3 separate regions of the Homo sapiens genome follow, and all the other regions are reported to be linked to region 2. Evidence: microRNA targets listed by miRTarBase, many of them from high-throughput screens and not tested one by one. Region 2 holds a microRNA gene; each other region holds the end of a gene's coding sequence.

Region 1 (3,111 bases), not on the chromosome of region 2:
GATCACTCAAGTCCAAGAGGTCCAGGCTACAGCTAGCCATGATCACACAACCGTACTCCAGACTGGGAAGTAACAGAGCCCGTCTTAAACTAAAAAAAAAAAACATGGCCGGGCGTAGTGGATCACACCTATAATCCCAGCACTTTGGGAGGCCGAGGCAGGCAGATCACGAGGACAGGAGATCGAGACCATCCTGGCTAATACAGTGAAATCCCGTCTCTACTAAAAATAACGAAAAATTAGCCAGGTGTGGTAGTCCCAGCTACTTGGGAGGCTGAGGCAGGAGAATGGCGTGAACCCAAGAGGCGGAACTTGCAGTGAGCTGACATAGCGCCACTGTGCTCCAGCCTGGGCGACAGAGCAAGACTCCGTCTCGAAAAAAAAAAAAATTTTTTTTACAAAAAATTAAAAAAATAAAAAGTGCCAGGCTCGCAGTATAGCACTCAAATGCTATTTGTCAGTTTCATGGAAGAGAAAATTTAAGTCTTGTCATTAAAAAACTAAATACAGCTTAAGGAAAAATAAACTCCCAAGTAACCAAACTTCAAAGCAGGGCCAGGGGACATAAAACCCCAAACACTTCATTTAACAATGGAAGACACTTTATTATTATTATTTTTAATCATCTCTCAACATTTCAACTCTTGGTAGAAATCAAATGTAAAACATCTGCATTTTTAAATTAGCATGTATTTAACTATCTCAATCACAGCAACCTCATCCAGTAAGATGCACACCTGGGAGCAGGGCTGTAGTATTTCGTATTCCAGTCTGTGACCACAGTGCGTCCGTGATGACAGGTACACTGGACTTTCCCTCCTAGGATGTGTTAGTCATTCCTGCTTTTGTCCATAGGGTAAGTTACGTGGCATCACGGTTGGTTAGAAAGAGTTAGTTACTGTAATGCTGGCGCAATCTGGAAATGGAAAACTAGAAAACTAGAGCTCTCAGGAGTGGGCCAGGCATTGCCGATTCTGAAATGTGAAAAGGAAGAACATCAAAGATGAATGCCCTGCTAGGCTGGTCTTAGTAATAAAGTTGGTTGAAATTCAGCTTAATATACACACTGTACATCTACATGTGATCTACCAGATAGATATATATATATATATATATATATATATATATATATATATATATATATATTAAAAAGAGAGCCATAGAAGATTTGGAAAACCTTAAAATCACTCAACTGAGTTGGAAGAACATCAGCAAATTCACAGTGGCCTCAGGATTCAGCCAGACTTAAACTTGCTCAAGAGCTGAATAACTTTCTCCCAGAAAAGCCCACTGCATATAAATCCCTTAACATTGTGTACATCACAAACAGTTATGGCTAAAATATAGTTAGTTCACAAGGAAGCGGCTTTATTTTCAAACTCTTGCCCCACTCCTGCTCTTGTACCCCCACAAGGAAAATCCAGGGGTTGGTAATTCACATGAGAAGCTGAAGGGGCCTTCAGGCTTGGAAGCGCTTAGGCTTAGCTGAGCATCTGAGGAGCCGTCTCTCTGATGGGCACATGCCGACTCCTGCCCACTTTTAGTGCAAAAAGATTGCAAATGTTGCAGATGAGTCCTGGAAACTGGTGAAGAGAAGAGGATTGAGATGGAGGGGCAGTAGGAATCCCAAATGATTTTCCTTCTGAAACGAGACTCAAGAAGTGTGAAGTGCAAGGTTCCTGCTCAGCAAGCTATAGGTCCGACAGGTGAGGTCCCTGAATTGTCATAGGTTAGCAGTCTGCAGACACACAGACCTCGACACCCGCGCTCACCCCCTAAGTGCACACTGGAGGTAGGTGTATAGATAGTTACTGCAGGGAAGACAGTGGCTCTCCACCAGCTCAAGAAAAGGAGGCTTCATGTCTGTTCCTCCCTGCCCCAAACTCTCCTCTCCCCTCGGGCCATAGTGAGTGGAGGATACAACACGAATGGGCGCGAGGCCCTCCCTTGGAAGACTAAAGAACCCAGGGCATTTAATAAATAGCTACATAATTCATTTTTTTAACCACGTTGAAACACACAGCAAGTTGAATATTTATTTAAAAATAAATCTCAAAAATATCTATTGACAGTACAGTAAGAGGGGCATGTGCAAACAACAGAAAGGGGGAAGTCAGTCCTGCTGTGGGAAGCCCACACATCAGTGTGTTGGAGCAAAGTTCACGAAGGCCATGGGCTGACTGAGCTGTGGTGTACGAAATGACATTCAGCTAATACTGGACTCGGTTCACCTTTGACACCTGGAGAGGTGGGGAAGCCAGGGGGTGGGGAGTCCAGCTGGGGATCCTTGTGTTTAGGAAGGGGGCGGCCAAGGGATGAGCCTTTGGGAGAGGCCCCGTGTGGCAGGAGGGCTCATTTCACAAGCCAACAGGCCTCTAGCTCGCCGCTCCAGGTGGATGTTTGGTGACCTGAAGGGCCCTTCCCAGTCCAAGTTGGCTTTGCAATGGGAGGGGTAGGTGCAGCGAGGGTCCCAGAGACAGAAATCCTCTTTAAAGGAAAAAACAAAACAACAAAACAAAACAAAACAAAACCCCAAAAAAAGAACCAACTGAACAGGGAGTGGAGAGATTAGCAAAATGAATCTGAACGGAAGTGCCACCTTCTCCCTTGTCAGACAACAAAGCAGCCATTGGTTGAGATATCTGAGTCGCTAAGTGAACTCCCACGTGGACACAGCCAGCCCACGATCTCTGCCACCTACATGGTCAAGTGCAGGCCTCCGCCTCTGAGATCAATGCGTTAGTACTTCTTCACCGTGAAACCCGAAAGGTCGGTTGATGTAGCCCTTGGAGCTGGAAGGGGCGAGGCCGGTCTATCTGTACACGAGATGGGAGAGCTGGGTGGACTTGTAGTTCAGCTGGTTGTTGGGCATGAACTTGTGCAGCTCACTCTTTTTGTAGCAGGGGTCATAATGGTAAGCGCTGAGGCAGGCGTCACATGAGACTTTTGAACACTGGGTGCAGGTGTTGGTGGCGCCTGGGCGGTTGCAGAAGCCACAGCGGGAAGTGGGCGTGGTGGAGGGCTTGGATTTGGAGTGAAGGTGCGGGAGGCGGTCGAGGCCCTGAGTCTGGCCTGGGTACTTCTCCCGCAGAGATGCCCCGTGGGCCAGGC
Region 2 (3,111 bases):
TAAGTCAGATAGCCCCTGGGACAAGTTGCCTGATAGGATACATGTTAACCCATTGAATTTGTATTTCAGAAAAGCAATAAATGTGTTTTTTTTTTTAAGTATAAGCATGTCCCATGCAATATTTGGGATATGCTTAAACTAAAAGTGATTTGTTATTTATTTGGCATTCAAATTTAACTGGGTAACCTGTCATTTTACTAAGTCAGGCAGCCCTATCCCAGGAGCATTGTGACTGATTGCCAAGAGCACCAGTCATTTATCTTCTTGCTTCCAGCTTCCTTCCTACTCTCTGCTGCTATCCCCTGTGTCGCGGGGTGCTGGGATCCTACAAATACATTTCTCAGTCTGGAGCCTCTGAGTATGGGTGTTGGATTAGTGATTACCAAAGAGAAGAACTTGCATGAGTTTTGAAAGGGTCGGGGTGGGGGTGAACTGTGTGAGATTGGAATATGGGGCTCTTCCAATGGGAAGCACAGACAGGAACTGGAAGGCTTTTGGGTTCCCTCCCTTTGTCCAGAGCCTCCATAAGGGAAAGACTGGCTCCCACGTGGTCCCCAGGCAGTGTGGTCGCAGTGAGGCAGCAGTGTCGAGCACAAATGCAGCAGCCTGTGGGGCACGGCAGGTGCAGGCTCTGGCTCAAGCCATGGTGGTGACGGGCTGGCAGCTTCAGGCTCCCAGAGTCCTGAGACAGCATCAGGGCCCTGGGCTCCTGCATTCCTGCAAGGTGGTGGTCTTGGTTCTAAGGCTGCCATGAATACTCTCAGAGCCTCAGTGGTGGGGGATTACGGGCTCTTGGTGAAACCATTTTCTCTTTCACTCCTTCAGCACAGAAGTGGTAGGAGCTTTCTGCAGTTCTTAATCTCTTGGCCATCTTACCTTCCCTTTCTACCTTCTTCTGGATCTCCTGCCCCTTTCTAAATGATTCATTTTCAATAGATTCCTTCTGTTGGAATGCATAGGGTGGTAATGCCTTCTTACCAGACCCTGCCAGAAGTAGTGAGCTAAGTCTTTTATTCTTATCATCTGCAATCAACAAGAGCCTCTCATGCATCATTACATTCATCATTTCATCACCAAACACATCATTGCATAATCAGACACGTCATTACATCATCACACACATCATTACCTCATATGTGCACCTCCCACTCTCCACCTAGACACAGGGAAGAGAGGAAGGCACCAGGAAATCAGAGTGGTAAAGAAAACTTCAGGAAATCAGGTGGTTTTAAGACCCTTTATTATGACTTAAATAAATTCTGAAATTAGTTTCTTTAAGGAAGGCCCCTAAACCGGGAATGAACATGAATAAGAATTATAGTCATTTTAGCGACCATAGTTTCCCCAGGAATTATTGCACTAAGGCATTTAAATTTTTTTCCAAATGCTAAAATATTTTGTCAGCTTTATTGACCATTCTTTCTAACCCCTCAGTAAATTATATCTCTATCTGAAGTGGAACATAGGAGATGCCCTAAGCTTCTCAAAGATGTTTTGTAACGATCTAGGTAAGGACTGTGTCTAATGGAAATGACAGGCATAATTTATTTGTGAAAGCAGAAATGAAATTCAACCTTGACAACAGATTGCGCATTTTTCCATAATGCCATGGAAGTGAAATTCTTGTGATGTAGATTAAATCGTGGAATTTGACTTATTGTTCAAAAACATTAGTTCAACTCTAAACAGTTGAATTACTCAGCAGCTGTGTACAAATGTATGATACAGATAACAAAATGTATTAACAATTCCCTAGATCTACAGAAATCTATCACTGCTTTTTAGGATAAGCTTGACTTTTGTTCAAATAAAAATGCAAAAGGAAAGTGTATCCTAAAAGGCAATGACAGTTTAATGTGTTTCTGACATGCAACCTTCAAGAGATCCATATATGAACCATTTTGTGTGGATAGTACAACTCTAAACATAATGTTATGTGGAAATTTGTATACAGAATATTTAGCAAAGAAGAGTCAGGATGAATAAAGTGAAAGGAAAGACTTTCCCAATGTTATTTTTTAAGTGATATGAGATGCATCAAGTGAGATGTGTTTGACAAAACTTTATTCAACGTTGATCCTGACAGAAAAGAAGCAGGAAAAAACAATTAATACACTTCCTATGTCTTGAAAAGTAGCAATTTTAATTTTATTGTGCATTTTGCTTGACGATTTTATATATGACTTCCAGTCAATATTTCATCTGGAGGACTGAGCAGGTATTATGATTCCCATTTTATGGCAGATTGCAAGGTGAATGTCACCTGTCATCAGCGCATACCTGGCCAGGGGCCACGTCTTCCAGATTCCAGCCCACACGGCATGGGTGCCTGCATTTCCCTGTTGCTCTTCTCCTCACACTGATATTAATGAAGCACATCTACTTTTAGTCAATAACCACTTTTATGTTACAGACACATAACAACTGGGAAATAAACATCTATATAATTAATCTCAACTAAGCCAGTTAACCCTTACTTTTTACCTAGGCTGTATGCTGAAATGTGTGCCTTTTCTATAAAGGGGTTTGTATTCCTCTCATTATATTGTATCAGGAGGAATCACTCTAAGATAAAACAGTTTATCTCCAAAAGTCTGCAGAAAATGTTGATAACAACCTGCAACTCTCTGGTAAAGGACTGTGAAATGCAAAACAAACCAAACCAAGCCCCAAGACCTACTCATGTAAGATGATGCTATGATACATTGCATTCATCTTTAGCTTTTTAGCCGTCTAAATTGTGTTCTATGAGAGTCTTAAATATCTTCCCTTTATCTCCTTAAGAAAGTCCTAAATTCTTAGCCAATTTTTTTTCCTTTTTTTTTTTTTTAAGAAAGGATCTCGCTCTGTTGCCCATTCTGGAGTGCAGTGGCACAATCTCGGCTCACTGCAACCTCCGCCTCCCGGGTTCAAGTGATCTTCTGCCTCAGCCTCTCGAGTAGCTGGGACCACAGGACTATAGGTGTGTGCCACCATGCCCAACTAATTTTTGTATTTTTAGTAGAGACAGGATTTCACCATGTTGGCCAGGCTGGTCTCAAACTCCTGATCTCAAGTGATCTTTCTGCCTCGGCCTCCCAAAGTGCTGGGATTACAGGTGTTAGCCACTGT
Region 3 (3,111 bases), not on the chromosome of region 2:
GGTGTGGGCTGGCATGAGTGGGTGGGGACTGTTTTCATGGCCTCAGAGTGGCAAACGGGGATGGGAGTAGGGCAGCTGCCAACTATAAATGCTCTTTTCTCTTCCTGAAGGGTTGCTTCAATCAGCTTTTGTATGACATCCGAACTAATGCAGTCACCGTGGGTGGTGTGGCAGCTGGAATTGGGGGCCTCGAGGTAAGCAGATGAGGAGGCTGGGACTGGGACATGGGCATGAGACCAGGGCTGCTCAACCCATCTGAGGCCTCTCTGGAGGAAACAGACTTCTAACTGGGCCTCAGGTAGGGTGTCTGTGGGACAGGCTTCAGGATCCCTATCATGTTCCCTCATCTCTCCCTGTTCCTCCCTCTCCAGCTGGCTGCCATGATTGTGTCCATGTATCTGTACTGCAATCTACAATAAGTCCACTTCTGCCTCTGCCACTACTGCTGCCACATGGGAACTGTGAAGAGGCACCCTGGCAAGCAGCAGTGATTGGGGGAGGGGACAGGATCTAACAATGTCACTTGGGCCAGAATGGACCTGCCCTTTCTGCTCCAGACTTGGGGCTAGATAGGGACCACTCCTTTTAGGCGATGCCTGACTTTCCTTCCATTGGTGGGTGGATGGGTGGGGGGCATTCCAGAGCCTCTAAGGTAGCCAGTTCTGTTGCCCATTCCCCCAGTCTATTAAACCCTTGATATGCCCCCTAGGCCTAGTGGTGATCCCAGTGCTCTACTGGGGGATGAGAGAAAGGCATTTTATAGCCTGGGCATAAGTGAAATCAGCAGAGCCTCTGGGTGGATGTGTAGAAGGCACTTCAAAATGCATAAACCTGTTACAATGTTGCCAGTTGGACTCTTCATGTATCCTTGGGGAGAGGGGCCTAAACTGGCCACGGATTCCTGTGGGGCTGCCAACTCAGAAGGCCCTGGAAAGGAGGGAAGTAGGGTGGGGTTGGGGGTCAGAAGTGGTTATTTCTCCCCTTCATTTGGGTTCCAGGCCTTGGAGGGAAACTAAGAGGGATGGCTGAGAGGGCATGAAGAAGTACAGTTGGGTTAGGCCAGTCTGCCTCCTTATAAAGGGGAGAACTTTGGACTGAAACTACCCCCTCCTGGGTAGGGGCACTGGACTGGAAAGCTATGAAAATAACAAGCTTGTGACGAATTCTTACCAGGGCAATGGGAAAGGGTCACTCCTTAGGTTCTGGGAAGCCCTTCAGGAGCCCCCTTCCTAGGGTCCAGGCTGCCTGCCTTTCCCACTCAGGCAAAACCCCAGATCTGTCCCTGCTTCTGGGATCTCAGCAAGCACTTCATTTTTTCGTTGCTGCTGGCCTACCTGGTGTTCTTCAGACCTCACCTCTTTTTCTTTTCTTTTCTTTTTTTTTTTTTTTTTTTGGGACAGAGTTTCGCTCTTGTTGCCCAGGCTGGAGTGCAATGGTGTGATCTCGGCTCACTGCGGACTCTGCCTCCGGGTTCAAGCAGTTCTCCTGCCTCAGCCTCCTGAGTAGCTGGGATTACAGGCACCTGCCACCATGCCCGGCTAATTTTTGTGTTTTTTTTTTTTTTTTTTTGAGAGAGTCTCGCTGTCGCCCAGGCTGGAGTGCAGTGGCGCGATCTCGGCTCACTGCAGGCTCCGCCCCCTGGGGTTCACGCCATTCTCCTGCCTCAGCCTCCCGAGTAGCTGGCACTACAGGCGCCCGCCACCTCGCCCGGGTAATTTTTTGAATTTTTAGTAGAGACGGGGTTTCACTGTGTTAGCCAGGATGGTCTTGATCTCCTGACCTCGTGATCCACTCACCTCGGCCTCCCAAAGTGCTGGGATTACAGGCATGAGCCACCGTGCCCGGCCACGCCCGGCTAACTTTTTATATTTTTAGTAGAGACAGGGTTTCACCATGTTGGCCAGGCTGGTCTCGAACTCCTGACCTCAGGTGATCCACATGCCTCAGCCTCCCAAAGAGCTGGGATTACAGGCGTGAGCCACCTCACCTGACCTAGACCTCATCTCTTCTTTAGCCCTAACTATCCCTATGCTCCAGGTAGGAAACTAGGGATCGGAAAGGCCAAGATACTTGCCCCAGTCCCACAGGCTTCTGTGAAGAGCTCAGCCTAGATTTGGGCCCAGAACTCCAGCACCTGGTGTAGTCCTGGCTGACATGGTACTAGTTCCACTTGAAGGGGCAGCTGGCCAGAATGTCTGATATAGACCTGATCACTGTTGAGCCAGGAGTGAGAGGCCTGAGGGAGGCTATGGCAAGAGGGTACAGTGTCTGCTACCAAGCAAAGCCCAGCCTAACAAACCAGTCCCCCTCCTTACTTCCCTTTGACCCCTGTAACTCTCTTCCTGAGCTTTTCCAGGGCAGCCCAGAACCACCACCCCCTTGCTGAGCCCAGAAAGGAAGAGGGACCTGGCCAGAACCAAACAGTGCCTTAGAGCTGGTCTGTGAGGGCCAGACCAGGAGCCTGCTAGGGTGCGGGACAGGGGGAGGAGCTAGCCTGCCTCACCCCTTCACCACCATACTGTGCCTCTCACACTTCTCCTCTGCCGTGTGCCTGTGTGGAGGCTGCATGGGATTTGTTTGCCCAGGGCGGGCCTCTACCTCATCATGGGCTAATTGCTGCTCAACCTGGCTGTTGTGCCACCTCAGGCACTATATCCAGCTCCAACAAACACTGAAGGCGTCAGGGTGGCGAGATATGTCCAAGCGACATACCACCCATGCTGTCACCGAGTTGGGCTCCAAGCACCTGTGAAAGAGGCAGGGCAGAGAGCAGGCAGGAGGGCTGGAGTTCCAGCTGGAGTTCTGTACTTGTACAGAGGCAGGCAGACCCTTTCTGAAGAGGTGCTCCACACTCATCCTCCTGACATTAGGCCCTTCACAGATCCCTTAAATGTTCTTTTCCCTGCCGTAGGCTTTCTCATTCACTCCCTCTGGACAATCCCATCCATTTTCTGGTGCCCCTATGACTAACTTAGATCTTCCTAACCTCTTTGGGTTACTGGCTATGTGAGAATCTGATGAAGACCATGACCCATTTCTCCACAAAAATGCCCAGATAGAGAATTCTGAATAGCAAAGTGCTCTAAGGGCCATAGACACCCTTGCTCCTAC

What was found. Region 2 holds the annotated microRNA hsa-miR-651-3p (AAAGGAAAGUGUAUCCUAAAAG, at 1,819-1,840, shown strand). A microRNA usually pairs through its seed, bases 2 to 8, with sites in the 3' UTR of a target mRNA and lowers its output. Matches are read on the target gene's strand: a 7mer-m8 pairs with bases 2 to 8, a 7mer-A1 pairs with bases 2 to 7 and ends in A, and an 8mer does both.
Region 1: miRTarBase lists SPATA2 as a target of hsa-miR-651-3p. Seed matches in the 3' UTR shown: 7mer-m8 at 2,493-2,499 and 7mer-m8 at 1,412-1,418.
Region 3: the mRNA of TSPAN1 is a reported target of hsa-miR-651-3p. Seed matches in the 3' UTR shown: 7mer-m8 at 602-608.

Annotation. Positions count from the first base shown.
Region 1 is chr20:49,902,807-49,905,917 of GRCh38, forward strand. SPATA2 (spermatogenesis associated 2) reads right to left here. Exons shown (of 3, transcript NM_006038.4): 3 at 585-3,111. The coding sequence ends at 2,813. Among named protein-coding and RNA genes, the nearest start is that of SPATA2, 11 kb to the right of the region's middle.
Region 2 is chrX:8,125,200-8,128,310 of GRCh38, forward strand. It overlaps MIR651 (microRNA 651), which reads left to right and starts at 1,766; the gene lies at 1,766-1,862. The region is part of intron 1 of LOC107985675 (a long non-coding RNA gene); the gene reads left to right.
Region 3 is chr1:46,185,115-46,188,225 of GRCh38, forward strand. It overlaps TSPAN1 (tetraspanin 1), which reads left to right. Exons shown (of 9, transcript NM_005727.4): 7 at 1; 8 at 111-194; 9 at 372-848. The coding sequence ends at 419. Among named protein-coding and RNA genes, the nearest start is that of P3R3URF-PIK3R3, 10 kb to the left of the region's middle.